Homo sapiens: one gene and its partner. The protein of the gene in region 1 interacts with the protein of each later gene in a biochemical or structural test. Each region holds a gene or a part of one and is shown in the gene's direction. Other genes may lie near its edges. The genes, in order: SORL1 and SORT1.

The links.
Region 2: the proteins of SORL1 (region 1) and SORT1 form a complex in vitro, tested with the Homo sapiens proteins (one study listed by BioGRID).

The regions. Positions count from the first base shown.
Region 1 is NC_000011.10:121,550,832-121,561,601, forward strand, and holds part of SORL1 (sortilin-related receptor preproprotein), read left to right. Parts: intron 1-3,105; coding exon 3,106-3,278; intron 3,279-4,355; coding exon 4,356-4,487; intron 4,488-6,482; coding exon 6,483-6,574; intron 6,575-7,759; coding exon 7,760-8,006; intron 8,007-8,687; coding exon 8,688-8,826; intron 8,827-10,770. UniProt on the Homo sapiens protein: Sorting receptor that directs several proteins to their correct location within the cell. Along with AP-1 complex, involved Golgi apparatus - endosome sorting.
Region 2 is NC_000001.11:109,337,730-109,348,499, reverse strand, and holds part of SORT1 (sortilin isoform 1 preproprotein), read left to right. Parts: intron 1-967; coding exon 968-1,017; intron 1,018-2,618; coding exon 2,619-2,749; intron 2,750-6,341; coding exon 6,342-6,486; intron 6,487-7,620; coding exon 7,621-7,776; intron 7,777-10,770.

The DNA.
Region 1 (10,770 bases):
ACACTGAACTTGTACATAGCCATACCCGTTTTTAGGAATGGAAAGTACTTTGTGTCAGCTCAGTTTCTTTGAGGGAAATCCCTTTGTTAATTGAAAAATATTTATTCAGCATCCACTGGGGTAGAAAGATCCCCACAGGCTTTTGTGTGTTCCTTAATCTGTTTGTCAAAGTTGAGTATAAAGAGGTGTGTGACTTCTTAGGAAGTAGCTAAGTAGTCTATGTTAATTTTATAATAAAACTAACTGTAACTAAAATTTTAATGGAATTTTATAGATTTCAGTGTACTTTTTATGTGTTGCCAGTTTAACCCTTTTAACAACTCAGGGAAGCAGATATTATCAATTTTGTTTTTTACTTTTTCACGAGGAAGCATGTTCAGAGGAGGTTAAATGGCTTAAGGTCACACATCTAGTAAGTGACAAAGTTGAAATTCAGACTCTAAGCCCCATGCTCTTCATTGGACATTGCCCAAATGGCAAATAAATATCATTCTCACTATTTTAGATAATCATTATGCATGCTAATTAAGAAAAACTTCTCTGAAATGATTCACATGCTATAAAGGTATAGTGTGTTCTAAAACACGTTTCTGCTAGATTTAGTGGTGATGTAACATGGGGTCTTTACCACAGAGACATGAAATTATGATACTTTGAAAAATAATCTCTTAGTTGCTTTTCTTCACTCTGTTTCCAGTTCTTATTCATTTAAAGCTTCTTTATTCCCTCTGTGCCCTCTTTCCTGCCCATTACCTCTTGGTGAAGGTAAATGGCTGGAGTTAACTTCCGTCTGTGGTGGGTGGTGGTGTCTTACGTGGACAGCCATAAGCACCGAATGAATCATGAAAGAAGTGTGTGGTCTCCACAGGCAGGGCAGGGCAGCCCTCTCTTTTGCTCACTGCCGCCAGCTTGCCCTGGTGTTTTTCATGCTAAGTTCGTTAGTCCCTTAATTTAATCTTTCATCATTACCAGAGTAATTAACATACCTCACTATGGAGGCTTGAAAAGAACCACCACTTCAGCAAATTCCAACAAATGAGCAGATAATATTCAAATATTTCCCTCACAAGAGCTGTTATTGATGAGGGCGTGGGTTAGTAGGGTTTGAGTGATTGCTCTTGAGGGGCTGGAGTGCCTACTTTTGTAATAAATATTTCTGAAGATAATTCAGCAAGGGACAAAACAGTTTGTTTAAAGCCATCTAAACTGGCAGGAAAGCTATTTTCTCTTCTACTGGAAGATAGAACAGGGAACGAAGTGGAGAAATCTCATTCCATTGTGGGCCACCTCCTATGTAAAAGAGAGAAAAAAAAAGGCATGGAATAGGAGGCAGGGATATACCAGGAAAGAAAAAGATGCTTTCACAGGACTAATGGGGGCCGTAATATCTTTGCAAAGATGAGGTAATCTGGGCATCTGGAAGGATTTTTTAAATGCAAGAATTTTTCTTCCTTTACAATTACTATGAAAACACACATTCCTTGGCCAGGACCAGCCAAGAATTCCATTCCTTTTCCAGGTTAAGCATTGCGCGCTGGAATGCCGCATGCTGCTCTGAACATAATCCTAAAACACGTATTTCTGGATTCAGGTTCTACTTTATGGGTATTAGTTTCTTAGAGGAAAAAAAAGCCCAGAGTGACAGAATGAGGTTTATAGATGCTGGAGAGAGATGTGGGGCAAAAGCCTTGCTGCTGCAAATGTAGCTTTCATGTCCCTATACCTTAGCTGGCCCCCTCCCTGGGAATGACAGCGGGAAGGTTTCCTTGACAACCAAAAGGGGAGGTAGGTTACCATGTGATGGTAACATAGATACTTCTAAAGTGACCTGGAACCAAAGGAAAAGAAGGAAAACTTACCTTATTAAAAATTGTAGGTAGATTTATTTTTTGATGCATTATCTATATTACAGCTTTTATAAAGAAGGTGAGTGGTACATGTTAAGTCACTGAGTGTATGGAATCAGGAAGTGGGCAGGAATGGCTAACCCAGGCATGCAGCAAAAGAATTCCGATTTGCATCTTGGTCCCATATGCAACACACTGTCAAGATGCACACTTTAGACACAGATGCTGGTGTGCTGCTTGTGTCCACTCCTGGGGAAGAATCTGGATGTTTCCCAAGCCGTTCCCTAAGTGGACAAGACAGTGTACTGGGTCTTCCTATTTCCAGTTGTCTGACATTAGGTAAGTATCTTCAGCACTCAGGACCTTCATTTCTACATCTTAAAAATCATCCACGGTAGCGTCTGTATCATAACAGGCAGCACAGTGTAGTGGTTAAAGCATAGACTCTGGATCCAGAGTGCCTGGGTTCCAATCTTGGTTCTGCCACTTGCTAGTTGTGTGACCTTGGGTGAGTTACTTAACCTCTCTGGTCTCAGTTTTCTCATTTGTAAAATTTGGTTAACAAGAGTTCTACCATCAGGCAGTTGTTGTGGGTCTTAAACAATACCCGATACGTAGTAAGCACATTATACACAATATGTACACAATTTATATTTGTTGAGTAGAAACAGAATTTTTGTGGTGATTATGTTGTGGAACATTTTGTAAATAGCCAAGAACAAATGCATTATTAGTATTATTTTGGAGATCTAAGAGGTTCATAGAATTGCCATATGGTGTTGTGAACAATATGAATAAGTGAGCAAATTGATTAGAGAGCTTAGTTACAAAGCTTCAGTGACTAATGGTCTCTCGTCAACAAGATGATGATGCTGTGGTGATACAGTCACGTGAGGAGGGAGAACAGGGCGATTGGTGTAATTAGGTTGGCAAGTGTGACTTGAAGACTGGCAGGCTTAGCCCAGAAGTATGGTTGTTGAAGCATGCATATTGGGAGATTTAGAATAAAGAAAAACATAACAAGTAAAACACTTGCAGATGAAGAAACAGATTCACTGGAGTTTAAGTAACTTGCCTGAGGCAGAAATGTGATTCCATTACACACCTCCTGAGTCTTGATTTCTGTGCTCTTCACTTGGTCCACACCACATGCCAATGAATTTGAGGTTTGTGTATGAGAAACAAATAGGTCAGATGTGCTAGGACCTCTTCAGCATCCCCTGGGTCCAACCTCCCACGTGTCTTGTGTGTCTGGCAGAAGAGAACGAGTTCATTCTGTATGCTGTGAGGAAATCCATCTACCGCTATGACCTGGCCTCGGGAGCCACCGAGCAGTTGCCTCTCACCGGGCTACGGGCAGCAGTGGCCCTGGACTTTGACTATGAGCACAACTGTTTGTATTGGTCCGACCTGGCCTTGGACGTCATCCAGGTGAGTCAGCGCTTGGTCTGACTGTGGGAGCTGTGCATCGTGACTGCCCTGTCCTGATAAGCTGCATGCAGAATGGCCTATGGAAATGGGCAGTTAGAAGTTTGTAAGTGTTACTCATCTCAGGGCTGACAGGTGAAAGTTTCCAGTCTTCTGTGTTAGTATTTTTCTTTCTCTGTCTTCATCTGTTCATATAGGAAGGATAAAGAAAGCCCTAAATCCACAGACCTGCTTGAAAGTGAGGTCTTGCTTTTCCTGCTGGGAAGGTGTTGGGACTAGTAATGTAGGATGATTAGTTGCCCCCCTATTGTGCCAACTGCCTCTTGAGCATCTTTCTTCCCAAGCCATGATACAGTAACACTTGACTTACCCATAGCTCACATAATTATCCACTTCAGCTGTTCTGAACACAGGTAAGAACCAGGAAGTAAGCATTAAAGAGCCCTGGACAGGCCAGGTGGATAGCCATACGCTCACACCCATGCATTTAAAGGAGAGCTCTTTGATCTTTATTCATTGTCTACTTAATCCTTTTAGAAAAGCAATTCCAACAAATTTTTATCTAGATTCCAACCCAACAGAAATTTCACAGTGCCTGGGTATTTGAGGGGCTTGGGGTGGGGGATGGCGGTGATGCTGAATGGAGCTGTCCAACAATAGCACTTGATGGCTAAGAGCCTCACAGGGAAGAAAGAGTATAAAAGCAGACACAAGAACTGAAATGTAACAGCAGTCTGGTTTCACTTATTTTAAAAGCAAACAGACTCATACAATCTCAGTAATCTCTGACTTTATTATTGCCATACAGCATAATTTAGTAACCAGTGTTCATAATGATAATGCAGAGTAATATATATGATTAAATTCTCTTTATTCTGCTTTAAAAAACAAAAATGTAGTATATTTTAGAAATGCTTTCATGAAAACCTGGCTTCATGTGTCTGGAAAGTTTACTAACGTAAAACATCTCATCCCTTGCCAGTCCTGCCAGTTGAATAAAGGGTTACCCTTCATGGGACTGACTTGGCAGGGGGTCGTTTGAACAGTTCCTAGCATTTATTATTACTTTTCTCTCTTAAGCGCCTCTGTTTGAATGGAAGCACAGGGCAAGAGGTGATCATCAATTCTGGCCTGGAGACAGTAGAAGCTTTGGCTTTTGAACCCCTCAGCCAGCTGCTTTACTGGGTAGATGCAGGCTTCAAAAAGATTGAGGTATGTGTATTTTCGTGCTGTTCTTAATTAAGGGAGCAGGCGGGGCACCTGGGCTTTGAGCCACATTTGACACAGAGGCAAGGGCCAGTGTGTCAGATTACTCAGGAAATTTACTGCGAGTTTCCAGAGAATGGACCAGCTGAGCCTCTGGAGAGGAGAGAAAAGGGGGTAAGTACCTGTGAGTTGATCTTTTGGCTAGCAGAAGCTTAGCTAATAACAATAAATGGTAATATTTTTATTTTATTTATATATGTACTTACTTATTTTATTTATATATTATTTTTGTTTTATTTTACTACTTTTATTAAACATGATGGCAAAAACTACAATCACTTTTGCATCAGCCTAATATCATGGTATTATTATAATGCTATAACAATAATCGTCTAGTATTATTTTATTCGATTAGAGTGATAGCAACAATATCATCATCATCATCATCATTGCCACTGTTATTAATCCCCATTTCTCTGCAACTTAGCTACCTAGTAACCTGTCCCACCTTATATACCCAAGGCAAGGATGATGAGTGACCTCTAAACTGCCAAATCTTTGTCTGGGGGAATGTAGTGTGCTCAGCTCACTGCCTCAGCACCTCTTTATACTGACTCTGCATGGAGAGACGGCATGTGGGTGAAGTGGGAAGTGCAGTAGAAGCAGGGAGATGCAGAGGGCTAAGAGGAGTTGCAAGACGAAAGACACAGACTCGAGAGATAGACCCAGATGTAGGCTTGACTCCACTAGCTCAGCGACATGGGGCAAGGTGCTTATGCTTTCTAAACTTCAGTTGCTTCATGCGTTAGATGGAGATTCATATATTCGCACAACCATTTGACAGGGGTTCTCTGCATGATACATGTGGTTTAGGTTCTGATGATAAAGCAGTGGGCAGGACACACACGTTCTTGTTCCAGTAGAGCTTAGATTTTAGTGGAGGAAGCAAAATAATAAATCAGTTCTGTTGGTGGTACATGCTGCAAAGACTCTGAAGCAGTGCAGTGTGATTGCGCTTTTGGAGAGTGGGGCAACATTAGAATAGGCAGACAGAGCAGGCAACTTGAGGTTGATGTCTTAGCTGAGCCCTGGCTGAGAAGAGGATGATCTTTTGTCCACCTCCTGGGGATGCTGATAGAAGTGAACTGGCATCTACTGAATGCTGCCTCGGTGGTTATGTTATTGCTCTTTCTCTCCTTTCTTTAATTGCGTGTGGTCAGCACTTGGCTAGGGGCTAAAAGAATGCAGGTGATGCACAAGCACCCACCTTTTCACAGGCTGTGGGGCGACCACTGCACAACTCAAATACTGTTGGTGCAAAATGGTGTCAGATGAGCCAAGGTGCAGAGCTACTGATGCTTATTGGTCCAGGTGGGTCAGAAGAGTTAGGAAAGTAGGCAGGCCTGGCAGTGAGGTTTGAAGGAGAGTTATGCCTTGATTAGATTAAGCAGTGGGGCAGGTAGGCCCAGGATGGGATGTGGCAAGAGCAGACAGCAGTGAGTCCGCATCAGGCTTGGAGAAGCAAGAGATGACCAGCCTGGCTGACGGGAAGGAGCAAGAATATGAGTCCCACCTGTGGACTCTTCATTGCAAGGCTGTGACATTGAGAATTTGTTTTATGGGAGTGTGGAGTCATCGATTGCCTTGGAACGTGGAGTGACACGGGATGGTGAAATAAGTAAATGCTCATTTGCTTATTTACTTATTTGAGTAATTTACTTATTGATACTGCTTTGTCCAGATCATCATGCCCTGGAAACTGGGGCTTACATGGTTCTAGCTCCTCTTTCAGACCACTTGAAAATTGTCCCATGAGTCAGAGGAAGGAACAGCGCATTGTGACTAGAAGTTGGGGCAGGTTTCGCAGATGGGTCAGGTCAGGGAAATAGGCAGGCATGGAGGGGGCATGTCTGTAGCAGAAGCTGAGTAGCCATCTTTGGCAATGGGGGTCTTTAAGGAGCTCCGATCCATCTCAGCCTCTTTTCCCCCTGTTTTTGTCAGGTAGCTAATCCAGATGGCGACTTCCGACTCACAATCGTCAATTCCTCTGTGCTTGATCGTCCCAGGGCTCTGGTCCTCGTGCCCCAAGAGGGGTAAGTGTTGCCCCAAAAGGAAATCAGTCTTGCGTCCAATGCTACACTAATAGATTCTCATGGAAACACAGACTGCGGGACAAAAACTCTGTTTCTCATGATGGTGGTTGAAATGGTCTATTAACTGAGAAGTTTGAGACCACAGCTTAGTCATCGTGGTCAGGTAACTCCGTTCGCTTTTTGTTAGCCAGTGTCAGAGTCTCTTTAGGCATCCAGATGTCTTGCATCTGTGGGTTGTTTCTCTAGAAAAGTTGATGTTAAAAGAGAGCTTCTGTAGACATAGACAGGCCTGCTTGGATATTGTGAGAACTTTCTCTTGAGTTTCATGCATGGTACAAACATTTAATTCATTCCATCTTTCCCCTGCCTTCCCAGCATGTGTAGGTTTTCTTACGTACAATCAGTGTGCACTTGGGGAAGGCAAAGGTGCTTTTTATTAACTCATTAACTGAAGGAAACATAATTAAGAGGGAAATTCTGGATTTGACATTCTGGCTTTTCCTCTCTCGTAGCATTTATGATAGAGAATTGGCACAATTTTTTTCAAGGAAAATTCTAAGAGTAATGTATGTACTTGGTTGACAATATTTAGAGAGAACAGCACTTTATGAAAAAAATTTGCATTCTTCCTTTTCATTCTTAACCCTTTACCCTCACACTTCCTAGTGGTAATCATTGTTAATAATGTCTTGTGTATCTTTCATGATTGCTTTTACTTATGTACAAGTATTATCTTTAAAACACACACATATACACACACATGCACGCCAAATAGGATTGTAGTGTAGTTACTATTCTGTACCTTTTTAAACAAACTTAATATGTATTGAAAATAGTTCTGTGTGAGCATATATAGATTTTTAGGTTTCACAGTATTCTATTATATGTACCATAATGTGTCACTTCCTCTGCTGATTAACATTTAGTTTAATATACATACATATACATTTCTTTGTATATTATCTTTGCATAATTTGATTTTATCTATAGATAAATTCTAGTAAAGGAATTTCCAGGTGAAGGAATTTAAGTAGTTTCAGGTGTTGTCATTACATATTGTTATAATAATGCTGAAATAACCAGCCGGATCATTCGAAAGGAGTTTCTGACCTTTTCTGGAGTAGTATTTGAGCTCCCATTTCTCTAGTATTGATGAGGTATGTGTTCTGTCCCCATTTTCGCTAGGGTGATGTTCTGGACAGACTGGGGAGACCTGAAGCCTGGGATTTATCGGAGCAATATGGATGGTTCTGCTGCCTATCACCTGGTGTCTGAGGATGTGAAGTGGCCCAATGGCATCTCTGTGGACGACCAGTGGATTTACTGGACGGATGCCTACCTGGAGTGCATAGAGCGGATCACGTTCAGTGGCCAGCAGCGCTCTGTCATTCTGGACAACCTCCCGCACCCCTATGCCATTGCTGTCTTTAAGGTGAGTCCATTTGTTGCTGCCGGACAGTCTGCTAGAGCGGGTGAGGAGCATATGAGATCAGGAGCCTGCATCCCTGGGCTTTGCAGAGAAGCTGTTTAACTTCTTAAAGGTTGCCTTTTTTCCAAATTTGAGATAACTTATTTTCAGCCTATGGAGGGATGCCAGGCAGAGGCGCCAAGGGTCCAGGCTCCCCTGCTGTTCACATTTCAAAAGGTTAAAAGTGAAGGCTCTTCCCATGAACATTCCCAGTTTGCCCCTCAGTGTCAGTAGCCTCATTTCAGGGTGGTGTCTTCATTTTTTGTGCGCTTTGCTCACTTTATTCTCTGATGACTTCCGGTGAGCTCTGCACCACCTATAGTGCCTTGCAGTTCTTTTTCGACTCTGGAGAGCAACATGGCTCTTCCCAACTCTGGGAAACAGATTTCAAACTGAGGGGGTTGGGTTTGTGTCATAAACTTGAATGCTTATCAGATAGTTTCTTTTGGGCAGTTTCTTCTGTGGGGTTATATGGTGAGGTTTGGATAAAATTGCTGTCCTTTGCATTTAAGTAGAATCTTGATCAGGCTAGTCATTCAGCCAATAAATGTTAGTTGTCTCCTGCCTGGGGGAACTCTTACCCTTAGAGAGAACCAGAATAAAGAACGAAAGAGCTGGACTAATGGGCAAAGGTTTTCTTTTTAGAATGAAATCTACTGGGATGACTGGTCACAGCTCAGCATATTCCGAGCTTCCAAATACAGTGGGTCCCAGATGGAGATTCTGGCAAACCAGCTCACGGGGCTCATGGACATGAAGATTTTCTACAAGGGGAAGAACACTGGTAAGCCAGAGTCTCTTCTTTTGTCTCTGTAGAGTTGATCTCAAGAAAGGGGCTGCGTGTGGCCAATCTCTGCTCAGAGTAGGAGCTGGCAGCCTGCATCTTTGTTGTCACGACAACATGCACATTATTTAATTTCTTCCTAATGACATCTTAATTTCTTTTCTAATGATACACAAACAGCTGGAAGACAGCATGCTTTTGCCTGCCTAGAGTGTTGGTGCTTGGTGGGTAATTACACCCTCCTCCTGCCCTTGGCCCCTGACTGATTGGTGGCGCGGCTTCTGTTGCAGCTGGGAGAGTCCTAACATGTGCTTAATCCCTGTTTGGCATGCTTGCAGGAAGAGACTCTGTGCTGGGTGCTCAGATAGTTGTTGCTTCCTGACAGGGCCTCTTGCTTGTTCTCTGGTTGCCCAGATGACCTATTGCTCATTGACCGTACCTACCTCTGCTGGAATGGCACTGTGTAGTTAGGTGTTGTTTTAATTAACTTTTCCCACCATGAAACCCTAAACCCCATGAAGAAAGAGATGGTCTTTTTTATTCCCCGATAGTTTTACCAGTGTCTAGCACTTTGTAGGTGCTCAATTCATATTTGTTGAAAGAATAAGGGATGAAAAGGGAGGGGAAGAATTGCAGTGGGTGCAGACAGTAGCTGTCTTAGAGATCTACTGGGTGAGGCTTCAAGAACTGCTATGAGGCTTTGACCTGCTAGTCCTGGAGTCTGAGACTATTCAGTGGAAAGCCTTTATCATTTCATGACTGCTCTTTGATTTTGCTTATCTCCCAGCCATACTATTGATTCTAGAGGAGAAAGATCAGAGGATTACCAGGAAGAATAGTCCCTTTAAGAATTTCCCTCTTTATCTCAGCAGGATTAAATGGCATCCTGGGTTTGCTGATTCTCCTTTATTGACAAACTGCTAAGTTTTCTGTTCTTAACTGGAATGTTGATATTGTTTTATGGTTCTTGGCTGACCCTATACTAGGAGAAAATTGACAGGGGAAATAATACTGTTATAGATATCATTGTTATCCTCTTGGGATTGTGAAGATAGCATGAGAACACCCTGGGAAAACTATAAAGTGTCTTACAAATGTAAGACGATATTATTTGTTATGTCTTCACCACTGACCTGTGAGGTAGGGAAGGCTGGTATTATGATCCATGGTTTATAGATTAGGGAATTAAATCTCAGATATGAATTAGCTTTCCCAAAATATCCTCACTAGTTTAGGGGCTGGCCTTTTGTTGCAATTCTGCCGCTAAATGGAGAAGTCACATTCTTTCTTAGAGGAGGCACCTGTTTTAGAATCAGGAGAGTTGAAGGAATCTTGCTTCTCAGCTCCAGTGACTGAAATCTTCAGACCTTTGTTTAATGGAGGACATCCACCCCTACTGATCTGACTTGCTAGCTAGCAGAGTGGATTTTTAGTATTTCTCCAAGTGGATTTTTAGCATTTCTCCATGTTACCACTTAGTCCAGAAGAGTGGGTCTTCATTTTTACAAGTGCTTGTATGCATGTGCTTGTTTGATTTGCACACAGGAGCTTCTGAAACACTGTGTGCAGATGAAGCCAGTGGCTACCCGGTCACAACTTACTTCCCAGTCTTGACTGTCCACTTCATCCCAAGAACTTGGGCACAGCTGACATGCAGTCACACCTGTGACTGAGGAGCAGTGCGGGAGGAGAGAGTTTGTGGTCTCAGCACATGCAAACGTGGTGTCTTGGTGCCAGTCAGACAGGTCTGCAATCCTCACCTTAGGTGTAGTTTCCCTTTCATGCCTCAAAGAGTCATCTTCATTTAAGTTAGCCAGAGTCATTTTGGGGCCCAGAGTGAGGTCTGGATAGATGACAGGCTGGTTTAAAAGGGAGATATGTATTAGCAGGGCATAGTGGCACATGCCTGTAGTCTCAGCTCCTCAGGAGGCGGAGGTGGGAGCA
Region 2 (10,770 bases), on another chromosome or scaffold:
AACAAACAAAACCTTATCTTTAAAACTAAAAAGTTATTTTAAAATAGGATTTTGTTTTGTATCCTATGCAAGGTTTTTACTTTTGTAACATGTTTTTTTTTTTTTGTTTAGTGTCTAAATATGAATAACCAGGATGCTGCTGTTTACTCACCTTTTTAGATCTCTAGTTTCTAGGAATTTACAACCAAAAGTTCTGAAAGAACATGCTCAAAACCAACACCTTTTTTTGGTTGCAATCCAGTAAGTGCCAGGAGGGTCTGAATCTAGTTCCCTGCAAACTCCCTTTCCAGGTTACATTTTAAATAATTCAACCTCCGACCTAGTTGTCCATTTGAGATGGAAGAACTAAATTATTTAACTCATACAAAGCATTGAACTAGATTCTGAAGGGAAACAGCAAAGTATAGTACCTGCCCTGAAGAAGCTAATTTATATAGTAGGAAAGGTAAGGCATATACTATGCAAGTAAAATAAAAAACAGGCAAATGCATGCCAAGTGGCTGTGCAGATGGTACAGTGCTCTAAAACAGAGTTTCTCAACCTCAGCACTAATGACATTTTGGATCAAAGAATTCTTTATTGTGGAGGACCGTCCTGTGCATCATAAAATGTGTAGCAACATCCCTGGCCTCTACCCGGTAGATGCCAATAACACCTCCGCCACCCACCCCTCAGTTGTGATGATCAAAAATGTCAGAGGCAAATGTTGAGAGGGTGAGTAGACCAGCATGACTGCCTGAAAGAGTTCACGTAAAGAAGTGGTGGACTGTAGACAACACATGGGCCGGGCAGTGGGGAGCTTGACAGGCAGAGCTGTGAAGGACCAGGGCTCAGCGCCTGAGAAGTGGTGCTTGTCAGTGCCTGTGAATGAAGCTTGTTAGACCTGCTAGGAAGTTTGTGAGTAAGGTCAACACAGTCCTTCAGCAGTCTTAAACCATTTCTTTTCCCTGTTTTTGCCTCATTGTAGGGGATCAGACAACACCATCTTCTTTACAACCTATGCAAATGGCTCCTGCAGTAAGTATATTTTAGTCCCAGAAAATAATGTCCTGTTGTCCATTCATGGTAGAATTTTCTGGGTTGTGCAAGGTAGAAACATAAAAGGTCCCTCCATTCTCCTGAAATTGTAATAGCTAAAGAAAGCTGTTAGTGGTTATTAAAATCTTGAAAGTAAAACCAAATTACTACACTACCCAGATCAAGTAAAAATATAGGCTATACGTAGAGGCAATATTTAATCTTAGCAATGTATTTATGTAAAGCAAATATTATGCTACAGACAATAGCAAATTGAAATGCATGGTTATTTCTACAGGAAAGCAAGGGTTGTGTTTGTGTTTGCAGAAGCAGCTGGCTTCCCAAACTCTGACACAACTTCAAAACAGAAAGCAAAATCTTTCATTTACTCATTCAACAGATATTTGAGCACCTGCTCATATGCTAAACACTGTTCTAAGGATGGAGAGAAGAAAACACCCAAGGCCTGCCCTCATGGAACGTAAATTCAGGAAAACCAAAACTCCAGCTGGGCATGATGGTTGCATGCCTGCAGTCCCAGCTACTTGGGAGGCTGAGACAGCAGGATTGCTTGAGCCCAGAAGTTCAAGGACAGCTTGGGCAATGTGGCAAGACCCCCAGCCCTTAAAAGAAAAGAAAAGAAAACTCAAGACAATTTAAAATAGGATAAGATAATTCCAAACTGTGCCATGAAGAAAGTAAAGCAGCATGCTGTGGCTTTTTTTTTTTTTTTTTTTTGAGACGGAGTCTTGCTCTGTCGCCCAGGCTGGAGTGCAGTGGCGCCATCTCCGCTCACTGCAAGCTCCGCCTCCTGGGTTTACACCATTCTCCTGCCTCAGCCTCCTGTGTAGCTGGGACTACAGACGCCTGTCACCACGCCCGGCTAATTTTTTGTATTTTTAGTAGAGATGGGGTTTCACCGTGTTAGCCAGGGTGGTCTTGAACTCCTGACCTCGTGATCCACCCGGCTCGGCCTCCCAAAGTGCTGGGATTACAGGCGTGAGCCACCGCACCCGTCTGCTGTGGCTTTGATGTTTTTATGAAACACTGTATTAGAATTAAGTAATCTCTTACCTTTCCATTGAGCATAAAATCTGAAATGTATAAAATAAAACACAAATATGAATTGCCTATATCTAATGCTGTATCACTTTTTTTTTTTTTTTTTATGAGACGGAGTCTTGCTCTGTCATACAGGCTGGAGCACAGTGGCGCGATCTCTGCCCACTGAAAACTCTGCATCCCGGGTTCACGCCATTCTCCTGCCTCAGCCTCCCGAGTAGCTGGGACTACAGGCGCCCACCACCACGCCTGGCTAAATTTTTTTGTATTTTTAGTACAGATGGGGTTTCATGGTGTTAGCCAGTTTGGTCTCTATCTCCTGACCTCGTGATCCGCCCACCTCAGCCTCCCAAAGTGCTGGGATTACAGGCATGAGCCACTGCGCCTGGCCGCTGTATCACATTTTATGTTGTCACTTGATTAACATGCATAGTATTTAAAATGCTTTAGCTATAAAATTAAGATTGATTCTAAAACAACTGCTTTGAACTAGGCTCACCAGTAAGTGAAATTTTAATTAATATTTTGTCTTGTTTAAGAAGCTGACCTTGGGGCTCTGGAATTATGGAGAACTTCAGACTTGGGAAAAAGCTTCAAAACTATTGGTGTGAAAATCTACTCATTTGGTCTTGGGGGACGTTTCCTTTTTGCCTCTGTGATGGCTGATAAGGTAGGTATTGCCCTCTCCCCTTTGGGGTCTGATATTTCTGCAAATATCTCTCGTATAGATTCTCTTTATTACTTGGCATTGACAGAGTTTCTTGTCTTTTTGTTATATTTAGTACCACTGTGAGTGTTAGGGGTGATTCTTTTTGCAAAGGCTGATTGACTGATAGGCTACTCTGCACTTTGGCCTTCTGTCACCATGTGAATTCTGTTATCTTTTTTGGGATTTTTTTTTTTTTTGAAACAAAGTCTCTCTCTGTTGCCTAGGCTGGAGTGCAGTGACGCAATCTCGGCTCACTGCACCCTCCGCCTCCCAGATTAAAGCAATTCACCTGCCTCAACCTCCCAAGTAAGTGGGACTATAGGTGTGCACCACCACACCCGGATAATTTTTGTATTTTTAGTAGAGATGGGGTTTTGCCATGTTGGCCGGGCTGGTCTTGAACTCCTGAGCTCAGGTGATCCCCCCGCCTCAGCCTCCCAAAGTGCTGGGATTATAGGCGTGAGCCACCGCGCCCGGCCAGGATATTTTGATCCAGTGTTTGGGCATTACTCAGACAATGGACATCTGTAGAAAGCAATCTCTTGCTCATTATCCAAGAATAAAAATACAATTAGATAACATTAATTGAGTGCCTACTATATGCTAGGTACTATTCTAAGTCCCAGGAATATGGCAGTGAACAAAACAGATGAATTTCCTGCTCTCAGAACTTATGTTTAAGGGGGAAAATAAATACTCAAAAAATAAATATGAAGGCTGGGGGTAGTGGCTCACACTTGTAATCTCAGGACTTTGGGAGGCTGAGGCGGGTGGATCCCTTGAGCCCAGGAATTCAAGACCAGCCTGGGCAACATGACAAAACCCTGTCTCTACAAAAAATAAGAAAATTAGCCAGGCATGGTGGCATGTGCCTGTAGTCTCAGCTACTTGGGAGGCTGAGGTGGGAGGATCATCTGAGCCTGGGGAGGTTGAGGCTGCAGTGAGCTGTGATCATGCCACTGCATTCCAGCCTGGGTAACAGCACAAGACCCTGTCTCATAAATAAATATAAATGTGAGTGTGTGTGTATCAGGTAATAATTAAAGCCGCGAAGAAATCTAAAACAGTAAGAAAACAAAGTGTCAGGAGTCAGTGCTCTTTTAGACAGACTGTTTAGGATGGGCTCTCTGAGACCTAAGTGAAACAAGAACTTGACCATGTGGCCATCTGGGAGGAGAGTAGGATGAGGCACAGCCAGTGCAGAGACCCTCAGACTGGAGCATGCCCGATCAATCCAAGCAAAGGGGAGAAGGGCAGTATGGGGGGAGCACAGAGAATAATAGTCCAAAGTGGGGCCAGAGGGGGCCTGGCCAGACCTTATGTGGCCTTTGTAGATCACAATTAGGATGTGGGCCTTACTCTTCTTGTGTTGGGAGCTGTGAGAGGGTTGTGAGCAGGGGAATGCTGAGATTTGGCTTCTCTTTTGAAGAATAGGTGTGCGCAGAACAGCCTGACAGGGGCACGCGCAGAAGCAGCGGGAGCGCCGGGAGCTCTCTCAGGAGTCCAAGCTGGGGAGGTGGTAGCTTGGCCAGGCTCTTGGCAGTGGGTAAGGGGGCAGGTGGTGAGACTGTGGATACATTTTTAAACATATTACTAATAGGACTTGCTGATGGATTTGATGTGGGTTGTGAGAGAATGAGTGGAATCAAGGGTACCTTTAAGAGTCTGTATCCTGAGCGCCTGAATGGTGGTGCCATTTTCTAGGATGGCAAAGACTGCAGGAGGAGCAGGTTGTGGGAGAAAAATCAAGAATTCTGTTTTGGGCCGAGCATGGTGGCTCACGCCTTAATCCCAGCCCTTTAGGAGGCTAAGACGAGCAAATCACTTGAGGTCAGGAGTTTGAGAGCAGCCTGGCCAACATGGCGAAACCCTGTCTCTACTAAAAGATACAAAAAATTAGCCAAGCGTGGTGGCGCAGGCCTGTAATCCCAGCTACTCGGGAGGCTGATGCACAAGAATCAACTGGACTGTGGAGACGGAGGTTGCAGTGAGCCAAGATCATGCCACTGCACTCCAGCCTGGGAAACAGAGTGAGACTCTGTCTCAAAAAAAATAAAAAAAGAATTCAGTTCTGCATATGAGACACCTATTAGATATCTGAATGGAGATGTCAAGTGAGCATTTGGGTATATGAATCTCCCTAATTGCTATGGTATTTGAAGCCATGTGACCAGATGATACCTTCTGGAGGAGTAAGTAGGTAGCAAAGAGGTGGGAGGACTGAGCAAGCCCTGAAGCACCCACAACTGAAAGGTTGGAAAGAGAAGAATCCAGCAAAGAAGACTGAGAGGGAGGGATCCGGGAGGAAGAGGGAAATCAGGACCATTGAGTTAGGTGCATTCTGAGAATTATCCACTGGAGTTGGCGACGTGGAGGTTGTTGGTGACCTTGACAAAAGCACTTCATTGGAAGTTAAAAGGCCGATTGGAGTGACTTCAGTGAGAACTAGAGATGAAGAAGTAGGCAGTAAATACAGATAACTCTCCAAAGCCATTTTGTAATATCCTCCCAATAACCCTGTGAGCTAATAGTATTACCTCAGTTTTATAGGTGAGGAAATTGAGTAACTTACCTAGGGTCAACCAGTAGTGGAATCCTGCTGGAAATCAGACTCAAATTCCAGAGGTAGCTTCCTATGCTATACTGCATATATGGTATAATGCTGTCTACAGAATTAAAATTTTGCGATGTACTTTTGAACTCTGGTTTCTACCTACAGTAATGAGAATAAGATTCAAAGTAATGAGACATGTTGGTATAAGTTGAATAAGTTAAATGTACTTATCACTGAACTTTAAAGAGTATTTAATCTAAGGAAACACCGACATTAATTCTCATGCTCAGGCTAACTGTATCTAGTAGCGATGTTAAGCTATTTATCAGAGAGTTAAGTTTTAATTGCTTTCTTAACAGACTCTTTTCGTCAGCCAAATACTCCCTAATCAGTTTCCTTATAGTAATTTCCGACTCTCCTTGGCCTCTTTCCAGCCCATGCCTGTTCCCTTCATCCTGGCTATTCTGAGAGACTTCCTTAGAGAGAAGGCGTGTTACATCTTGACTTCCCTTGTGATCTCCCAAACATGGGTTTCATCTCTATTTTCTAGACCCTTAAGTATATAATTCTTTAAATTATGCAAGCACTGTATGAAAGGGACCAAACTTTTATGCAGTAGTCATCATTTTAAGAATTACCTGAGTGTATGCAAATGGCTATAAAGCCAACCTAATGTTCTCATCAAATCCTTAGCTCTACTGAAGGAGGTGGACTATCAGAGACCAAGACTATACTATCTTACAGGGCCGCATCAGAATGAAGAATTCAAAGAGAAAGCCAAGATAGCCTTACTTAGAATAGAATGGATTGTTCCTTTACCTAGAACTTTGCTAGGGGCTAGAAATTGCTTTGGTAATTGGTACTATGACCTTTCATTCATAGCAATCGTACCCAGTAGAGAAATGGATAATAGTAGTTATTTAAAACATTCTTGTTCATGTCCCTGCCCATGGCATCTTGGCAGAAAATTAGAAAGATAAATATTGACATCTGTTCTAGGATACAACAAGAAGGATCCACGTTTCAACAGATCAAGGGGACACATGGAGCATGGCCCAGCTCCCCTCCGTGGGACAGGAACAGTTCTATTCTATTCTGGCAGCAAATGATGACATGGTATTCATGCATGTAGATGAACCTGGAGGTAAGAGCTTTTTAGTGGCTTACCCTTAAAAGCATAGAGATGTAAGCTTTGAGCAGCTTTTATTTTTACATGTCGAGTTTTCCTCTTACCCCTAGAAATTTATTAGTGCCCTACTGATTTTTCTGTCCTAGAGATCATCTGTAGCCCCTGTTAAAAATGCCACTTGTTTTGGTAGCTTGTGTGTATGTTCAGGTGTTCTAGAGCAGAGCTGCTCAAAGAATGGTCAGCAGACTGGTACTGATTTGCAAACTATCTGTTACCAGATAAGTACAGAAATTGAGAGCAAGAGTTTGGAAACTCTTCTAGCCTTTTGACAAAGCAATTTTATGTCTGTTGGATCTAATGACAAAAAATTAGGGGTTTATGGCTGGGCGCAGTGGCTCACACCTGTAATCCTGGCACTTTGGGAGGCTGAGGCGGGCAGATCACGAGGTCAGGAGATCGAGACCGTCATGGCTAACACAGTGAAACCCCATCTCTACTACAAAAAATACAAAAAATTAGCTGGCCGTGGTGGCGAGCACCTATAGTCCCAGCTACTCAGGAGGCTGAGGCAGGAGAATGGCATGAACCCGGGAGGTGGAGCTTGCAGTGAGCTGAGATCGTGCCACTGCACTCCAGCCTGGGCAACAGAGCGAGACTCCATCTCAAAAAAAAAAAACTTAGGGGCATATATTTTGTTTACCTTTTCATTTTCTAATGATTAGTTTTTATTATGTTTTACAATAGCATCAGTTTGTGACATATTGGAAATCTTACAAATTGATCCTTCACTACAGATAGTTTGAGAAGCATTGTTCTAGAGTGTAAAGATTTAAAAATATGTAAACTAAACATAGGGCCTCTCCCACCAAAATATATCTGGGAAGAGTTTTTCTGTAGCATCTGATTAATTTATTCAACAAACTCAGCATCTGCCATATTCCAGGCACTAAGCTGGGTACTAGAATTAAAGATGGGCATAAAGATCTTGAGTATCAAACCTTGATTAATTCTCAGGTCTGAGTCTTCATCATGAAGAGACACAATTGGCTACTGTGTTTGGTCAGGCAGGTAATCGTGTGTGGTTAGACTATTGTTTTTCTCTTTGGTTCCACCCAAGACTTAGTATTTTTGTTTGTTTGCCTATTTCAGACACTGGGTTTGGCACAATCTTTACCTCAGATGATCGAGGCATTGTCTATTCCAAGTCTTTGGACCGACATCTCTACACTACCACAGGCGGAGAGACGGACTTTACCAACGTGACCTCCCTCCGCGGCGTCTACATAACAAGCGTGCTCTCCGAAGGTGAGTCTCGGCATCGCAGTGGTGTACTGTGCCTTCAGCTGCATGTGGTAGGATTTGAGGCTTCGGGGAACCTGTCCCCTAGTAATGTTGCTTGCCAAGCCAACAAGCCTACCCATGTACATTTTTTTGTTTCCTTTTTTTTTTTTATTGTGGCAATATGTCTAACAAAATTTGCAGTTTTTAACATTGTATAGGGTACAATTCAGTAGCATTAAGCACAGTCACAATGTTGCACAACCATCACCCCTATTTCCAGAGCTTTTTCATCATCCCAAATAGAAATTGCACCAGGTGCACAAGCACTCCTCGTTCCCCACCCAGTCACCCAGCTCTGGTAACCAACATTCTATTTTATGTCTCAATGAATTTGCCTATTCTAGGTAGCTCATGTAAGCAGAATCATACACTATTGGTTGTTGTATGTCTGGCTTCTTTCATTTTGCATATTGTTTCAAAGTTCAGCCACATTGCAGCATGTTTTAGAATTTCACTTATTGCTTTTTAAGACTAGAATATATTCCTTTGTTTGAATATAGCACCTTTTTTTTCTTTTTCTTTCTTTTTTTTTTTTTTTTTTGAGATGGAATCGCTCTGTTGCCCAGACTGGAGTGCGGTGGCGTGATCTCAGCTCACTGCAACCTTGGTCTCCCAAGTTCAAGGGATTCTCCTGCCTCAGCCTCCTGAGTAGCTGGGTTTACAGGTGTGTGCCACCACACCCAGCTAATTTTTGTATTTTTAGTAGAGATGGGGTTTCACCATGTTGGCCAGGTTGGTCTCGAGCTCCTGACCTCAGGTGATCTGCCTGCCTTGGCCTCCCAAAGTGCTGGGATTCCAGGCGTGAGCCACCATGCCCAGCCTGTTTTTTATTCCTCCATTGATGGACACTTAGGCTGTTTCCATTTTCAGCTCTTATGAATACTGAATGCTGCCATGAACATTGTTATACATGTAACTGTTTAAGTCAATGCTTTCAGTTCCTTTGGGGATATATGTAGGAGTGAAATAGCAGGATCACATGATAATTCCATGTTTCTCTTTTGGAGGAAATACCAATGGGTTTTCCACATGGTTGTACCATTTTACATGCAATACAAAAGGATTCCAATTTCTCTACTTCATTGCAAACACATTATATTCTCCTATTTTTGTAACAGCACTCCTAATGGGAGTGAAATACTATCTCGTTTATAGCTTTGATTTGCATTTCTCTAATGACTAAAGATGTTGAACAACTTTTTATATGCTCGTTGGCCATGTGAATATCTTCGTTGAGGAAGCTTCTAATTGAGTCCTATGGATGGCAGTGATTTTTAAAGTTGTGTTCACTGATGCTCCTCTGGTGCTTATGACAATTTTTGCACATAGTAGATGTTCAGTAATACTTGCCAAATGAGCCTACAAATAAACGGCTGAACAGCCTTGCACTCAAAACCATACAGTGAACACACTTGAAAAACATTTAAGACTGAGCCTTAAGTATGATAGGCAGGAATGGGGAGGGAAGGGCATTTTCAGCTGAAGGAAGTACACATGCAAAGTATCAGAGTCGCTGGGCGCGGTGGCTCACACCTGTAATCCCAGCACTTTGGGAGGCTGAGGCAGGTGGATCATGAGGTCAGGAGATCGAGACCATCCTGGCTAACACGGCGAAACCCCGTCTCTACTAAAAATACAAAAAATTAGCTGGGCGTGGTGGTGGACACCTGTAGTCCCAGCTACTCAGGAGACTGAGGCAGGAGAATGGCGTGAACCCGGGAGGCTGAGCTTGCAGTGAGCCAAGACCATGCCACTGCACTCCAGCCTGGGCAACAGAGTGAGACTGCATCTCAAAAAAAAAAAAAGTATCAGAGTCACAGGAGGGTTTGGCCTGGTGGTGGTGGTGAGACATTGGGTGATGCCGGGGGAGGAGGGATCAGGAGGACAGTCCAGCAGGGACAGACCAAACCCATGCAAATTCAGGCTCCCTATTTTAAATAAGTTATGATAAATAGAACTAGGAGTGAGGAGAGCAACAACAAGTAGAAAAAAAGATGTTTTGAATCTATGTTGTTTAGGTAATAAAGTGAGTCTTCTATATTGGGAGATGTAGGCCTATGAGAATAAGCCTGAATTTGACCCACTTCCTGCTCTTCTTGGTAAGGGTGCATAGCAGTAGCCAGCCAGGGTTCTTCTTGTGTTCTACTCAATGGCTCTACAGAGCTCACCTTTCCTTAGGCCCAGTTATACAAATAAACACATTAGTCTCAAGTACAAAGACTCTTAAAGTGTCATTTTATTTATATATTTATTTTTCGGTAGGAGGTAGGGGCTGTTTTTATTTTGTAAAGTCCTGGCAGTGGCCTACAAAGTCCTGGAGATATGGCTCCCGGTTTCCTCCCTGACTCACCTCCAGCGCTTCTCTTTCCATCTGCCCTACTCTCATCATACTGTCCACCTGCCAGTTCTTAACACAGCAGGTACACATGCACATGCACAGATTAGAGTTTGCACCGACAGTTCCCTCTGTTTCTCCAGATGTCCGCAAGGCTGATATGTCTGTACTCATGTATTACTTTTTGAATGAGACCTTCCCTGACTATCCTATTTTAAATTCCAGTTTGCCCTCGCCTCCTCACACACACACTATCAATCCACCTTTAGCTGCGCAAGTATTTTCCATAGTACTTATTTTCTAGCATACTACATAATTTACTTATTTACTATGTCTAGTGCTTGTCTCGCCCTACCGGAATGTATTTTTCACAATATTTGTCTGTTTAGTTCACTGATACATTACCAAAGGCTTACAAAAGTTTTCACTCTGGGTGTAGTGGCTCATGCGTGTAATCCTAGCACTTTGGGAGACCAAAGTGAGTGGATGACTTGAGGTCAGGAGTTGGAGAACAGCCTGGCCAATATGGTGAAACCCAGTCTGTACTAAAAATACAAATTAGCCAGACCTGGTGGCATGCACCTGTAGTCCCAGCTACTCAGGAGGCTGAGGCAGGAGAATCG